Regions from separate parts of the Homo sapiens genome. Here region 1 is linked to region 2. The links come from fine-mapping of genetic effects on gene expression. Tissue or cell type: whole blood. Region 2 holds a variant in brackets; the other region holds the start of a gene. All regions are shown on one strand. Distances are from middle to middle.

Evidence for each region. PIP is the estimated chance that this variant, and not a neighbour inherited with it, causes the effect. A credible set is the group of variants that fine-mapping cannot tell apart.
Region 1: PSMD7 starts here. The variant in region 2 is the best candidate, but not a certain one, in a credible set for the expression of PSMD7 in whole blood (TOPMed, PIP 0.84).

The regions. Positions count from the first base shown.
Region 1 is chr16:74,295,427-74,298,166 of GRCh38, reverse strand. PSMD7 (proteasome 26S subunit, non-ATPase 7) reads right to left here and starts at 1,353. Exons shown (of 7, transcript NM_002811.5): 1 at 1,179-1,353. The coding sequence starts at 1,252. RefSeq lists enhancers at 339-1,228, 1,129-1,438, 1,229-2,120.
Region 2 is chr16:74,192,872-74,195,903 of GRCh38, reverse strand. The region is part of intron 3 of PSMD7-DT (PSMD7 divergent transcript); the gene reads left to right. Among named protein-coding and RNA genes, the nearest start is that of PSMD7-DT, 21 kb to the left of the region's middle. The variant C/A (reference allele first, on the strand shown) is at 1,591.

The DNA.
Region 1 (2,740 bases), 100 kb before region 2:
TTTTTTTTTTGGAGACAGGGTCTCACTCTCACCCAGGCTGGAGTGCAGTGGCATGATCTCAGCTCACGACAGCTTCGAACTCCTGGGCTCAAGCGATCCTCCCGTCTCAGCCTCCCAAAATGCTGGGATTACAGGCGTGAGCCACCATGCTCGGCCTCGTGTTTTAAATAAAAACTGAAACCTCATCTATATATACATTTTTTTTTTTGAGACGGAGTCTAATCAGATTCCCATTTAAAAATGTTAATGGGTTAAAACCACAGCTGATCCAGGAAGCCCTTCGGGGTGCTGAGCATCATCCAGATTTCGATAACAGGAACTCGGTCAAATGAAGACAAACATAGATACGACCCTGGGGGCGGGGGTCAGGGCCAAATTGAAGCTAGCCCCCTTAGCCCCACTCCGGCATCATCCAGGCATCATTCACTTTGCATCATTCACATTTCGGTGAAATCAACTTGGTTAAACGAGGATAAACATAAATACGACCCTGGGGCCGGGGTCAGGGCCAAATGAAGGTAGCCACCCTGCACCCCACTCCAGCATCATCCATATTTCGGTGAAACCAATTCGGTCAAACGAAGATAAACATAGCCTTGGGGCGGGGCTAAATGGAGCTAGCCCACTCCGCCCCACCCAAGCATCATCCAGACATCAGTCACTTTGCATTATTCACATTTCAGTGAAATCAACTGAGTCAAATGAAGATACGACCCTGGGGTCGGGGGTCAGAGCCAAATGAAGCTAGCCCGCCTCCGCCCCACCCTGGCTTTATCCAGATTTCGGCAAAACGAACTTCAAAACGAAGTGACAGACACGAGCTTGGGGGCGGGGGTCAGGGCCAACTAAAGCTAGCCGCATCTCCCGACCCCCAGCATCATCCAGATTTCGGTAAAACGAACTTCGGCAAAACGAACTCGGAAAGGGAACTCTGTAAAACAAACAGGCTAAACGGAACAGGCAGCCAAGGCCCCGAAGTGGCGGCGGCTGGGGCAGGGGCGGGAGGCTGGATGACTCCGGCATCGTGAGCCGACGCTGGTCTGGACTCGTGAACAAGTAAGGGTCACCAGCCGCCCTATCTGCGTCCCCAGCTCGTCCGCGGCCGCCGCGCCATCTCCAGCGTGCCCGTGACTCAGCAGCGGCTGCGCCGCCGGCCCAGCTATAGGGCGCTCGCTCACCGGTTGAAATGATCCACCACACTGAGCAGCACCAGGGGGTGGACCACCACCTTCTGCACTGCCAGCTCCGGCATCGCGACACACCCCGCTCGCCAGGCCTGGCTCCCTGCCACACGCAAACACCGGCAGCAGTAGCGGTCACCGGTACCCTTTCAGGCCCAGTTCCTCTTCTTCCGGTTCGTCAGCCCTCGCGCGGCCTCCTTCTTCCGCTCCCAGAGTGCCTCGCGCGGCGGGCCCGGATCTTCGCCACCGCCGTCATTTGTGGGCGGAGAAAGGGCTGGAGAAAGGCGGGAATCGCCCCTCGTCCCTCGCCGTGCGTTTCCCTGGACTTAAGGGCCGAAGGGACACCGGCGACTTGACCTCCTGGTATTGGCCTGTACCGTCACCTGCAGAGGCTTTTCGCCTCAATTCCTTCCCAGCACCCTCCCCCCGCCACCCCCCCAAAGTAAATAGTTGACAGTTTACTTTTCTACCACCCGGAAGAAGTTCACTTTTGCTTCAGGTCAAAATCCTCCGCGATTTCTGAGAGGAACTTTAAATCTCTAACATAAGAGCACGCTTTTAATGTAATTTGGTAATTTATCTCATTCTCGTTTTCATTGCCGGGGGAATTTCTCCTTTATCTTTACTGTGGACACTTTGCAATGAACGTGGCAACCTGCAGGTTTCCACCTGTCGTTATATTACTGCGTAACTAGGGCTAGAAGAACGCAATTGTGCCGTTGCTTTTGAAATCAAAATTTACAGAAGCGTTGAAGAAAAGACGGAAGGAAGGCAGTAAGGAAGTATGTTGTGATATGTAGCTAGGAAAGAGAAGACTAAGGTAGACAAAGACTTAAGCTTATTTGCAGGAGGCAAATTATAAGAAAAATCATACAGGTTTATATCGTCTCATTTGAAGTTGCTGTTTCTGTAAACGAAAACAGTACTTAAGCAACCTGAATTATTTACTTATATTTTGTTCTGTTTTTAAACAATTTTTGCTTTCCCTTTATCACCAGAGGATTTTCCCAACATTTTGGCCTCTTGTCTTTTTAAGGTGGACTTCCTGATCTCCAAATGTCAAGGGACACACTCAGTCTCTCTTATTTGTGGGTGGTGAAAAACATTAGCAAAGATTAGACTGAAATTTGGCCACCAATGAGAGACATTAATGTAGTCAGGAGTTTGAATTTGTCTGCATGTGAATTTATCTTTGTCTTCTGTCTGCAACTTGGCTTTATTTTCAGATTTTCTGCTAGATCTGCAAGGAAGTAAATGGCAGGATATGCTTAATATTCATAATTAATTGAAGAGACTCAATGCTATCTTTATTTTTTCATTTTTTTTTTTGGTACAGTTGGTGTCTCACTATGTTGTCCAAGCTGGTCTTAAACCCCCAGCCTCAAGCAATCCTCCCACCTCAGCCTCCCAAACTGCTGGGATTACAGGTGTGAGCTACTGTGCCTGGCCATTCATTCTTAATTATAACTAGAAAGATATAAGGGTTATGTTAATGGGGAAAGAAAACTAAGAATTATTGAATCTATTGAGTGCCTATAATATGCCAGCCCTGGTTCAGA
Region 2 (3,032 bases):
TGGTGAAGACACTAGAAGGTCATGTCATGATTTCACAGAAGGTGAAGGTGCTCTGACTGCTTGGTATTGGGAAGGGTAGGAAGATGGGGTGGGGCATGACATCTACAAGGCTACCGTGAGAGGGTGCACAGAGCGTAGCACAGAGTGTACCGTCATACGATGTAATCAGCACTGATCATGAGAGCTGTGGACTGGGTGTGGGGGCTCATGCCTGTAATCCCAGCACTTTGGGAGGCTGAGGCCAGAGGATTTTTTGAGTCCAGGAGTTTGAGATCAGCCTGGGCAATGTAGTGAGACCCCATCTCTACAAAAACATAATAATAATGAGAACTGTGATTATTATAAAGAGGAAGAGGGATTCAGTCTATGGCCTCAAAAATAAAAAGAATAGATGAGTGGAAGACCTCAAGGATGCAGATTCCAGTTGGATGGGAGGAAAAACAATATTCGAATAGAGCTTTCTAAAAATTAAATGGGCTGTCCCAGGAGAGGACTTTCCAATCTTTGGTGTGGTTGTATGTAATTCAGATCTGTCACTCCCAAACCAGGTACACATCAGAAAATCTGGGTGGGGGGGCTTGTTAAAAACACTCCAGTGTTTCTGACTTAGTAGGTCTGGATGTGGCTCAGAACCTGTATTTTTATCAGCACCTGGGTTATTCTGAGGCAGCTGGTCCATGAACCAGCATTTGGAAATCACTTGTCCATATGACCACCTGATGAAGACATTATGAAGGGAAGTGAGGCATTGGGTGGAAGATTGGGGAAAGATTCAATTTCATTTCATTAAATATATTTTTAGAATGTTTTTGGAACATGTGATTCCTTTCTCTTTTCCCATTTTATTAGGAATGTTTTCAAACACACAAAAAATTGAAAAAATTTTACGGTGAACACCCATATACCCACCACCTAGATTCTCTTATTAACATTTTACTATACTTATTTTGTCACATAAATACTGAGATGAAGTTTACATACAATGAAATGTACAAACTTGAGCATAGCACTTCTATAATTAGGAAGGATGAAAATGTGCATTGGAGCCAAGGGGGGTGGGTGGGTGTTGATGAGTAAGTAACAAGATCAATGGTTAGAAAATTGAGAGATGTCAGAGGATGTGCAAGGTAAGTATCAAATTGGGCTATTGAGGAGGACATTTGAGATGGAGATAAAGTCTGTGCTTATTATGACAAATTCTGTATTTGTGAAATTGCCTATTTGCAAAAATTTCCTTTTTGCAACCACGCCAAAGATTGGGAAGTCCTCTCCTGGGGTGGCCCATTGCATTTTTAGAAAGCTCTATTAGAATGTTGTTTTTCCTGCCATCCCACTAGAATCTTTATCCCTGAGAACCCCCAAATCAGTACTCATGGTGCCTTTGCAGTCATTTGTGGACATGCGTAGAGTGATGAAAAATTTGTTGATAAAAATACAGATTCTGAGCCCCATCTAGATCTACTAAGTCAGAAACACTGGAGTATTTTTAACAAGCCTCCCACCCAGATTTTCTGATGTGTATTTGATTTGGGAGTGGCAGATCTGAATTACAAACAACCACGCCAAAGACTGGAAAGTCCTCTCCTGGGT[C/A]GGCCCATTTCATTTTTAGAAAGCTCTATTAGAATGTTGTTTTTCCTGCCATCCCACTAGAATCTTTATCCCTGAGAACCCCCAAATCTGTACTTATGGTGCTTTTGCAGTCGTTTGTGGATAAGCGTAGAGTGATGAAGGATTTGAATTATCCGACATGGATGTTCCCAGATGATGTTGAATAAGGTAACGCTCTGTCTTCTTGTTTCAGCTCTTGTAAATAAGTGTTTTTAAATTTGCAGTCTGCTTAGTGCCATATTTTCCACATTTTTGTGCTATTTCCTAGTGATTTTGCTGTTTAAAATGCCTCCCTCCTCCGAAGCTTGGTATTGAAGTAGTGTCCAGTATTCCTAAGCAGAAGGCTGTGAAGTGCCTTACAGAGAAAATACGTGTGTTAGATAAGCTTTATTCAGGTAGGAGTTAAGGTGCTTTAGTTCTGAGTTCAATGGTAATGAATCAATAATATATTAAATAAGGTTTATTTAAACAAACACATAAAGCAAGGTTATGTCTTGATTGATAGAAATGTTGTGATCGACGTTTGCAGGAACCCAACACTGTATTTCTCCTGGGATCCATGGTTCAGTGTTCCCTAATTCAGTGTTTCCATTATGTTCAGTAGAACATAACTACCAAGAATAGATTGTAACACCTTGGGTGGGTCAAAGAAATTGATTGGACACTTCAGTGTTTCTCATCTTTGAAGCTCCGATACTTGGAATTTTCTTAGGTGCAAACGTATTTGCAAGAGCACACCAGCAAATCCTAGGCTTTAGAGTGTGACGTTTTTGTGGAATAATTATTCTACTTGTATGAGAAGTTGGCAGGCTAAACATTCCATTTATTTAAACATTCTGCTAAACTAATAATTTGGGGATTATGTTCTTTGATTTCATAGATATTTGTTGTGTGAAAATGTGCTGCATTTCTCTTAAATATAATCCTAGTAGAAGAATGGTTTACATACCCAATCATATCACCTTTTTACTGTGGCTTTATATAGAGATTTGTTTGTTTTCATACCTTTCAAGATTACTTCTTGTCCAGAGCCTGACTCCCGGGGCTGGAATTAGAACTGGGTATGAAGCTTATGAGAAGGGGATAAAATGATAGTTGTGGAACCAGAGAGATAAATATGTCAGGGAACCTCAGACCTGGCCCCACCTACAGGTGTGTGAGGCCTGAAAGGTGAAGCTGAGCCCAGTGGGGAGAGTGTGGATGAAGGTCAAGGTCGAGTTCAGCAATAGACTCCACATCTTTTACTGTAGGCTCCCTCTTCTTGGGCCTGGGACCTAAACGTAGCAGGTCAGAGCTGGACATTCCTAGATATTTTTATTATTTAAACATTAGTAATCGAATATTTTGTTATGCATCTATTGTGTATGAGATATAAAATACAGACATTACAGACCTTATTTTGAAGGATCGACAATCTGTTTGTG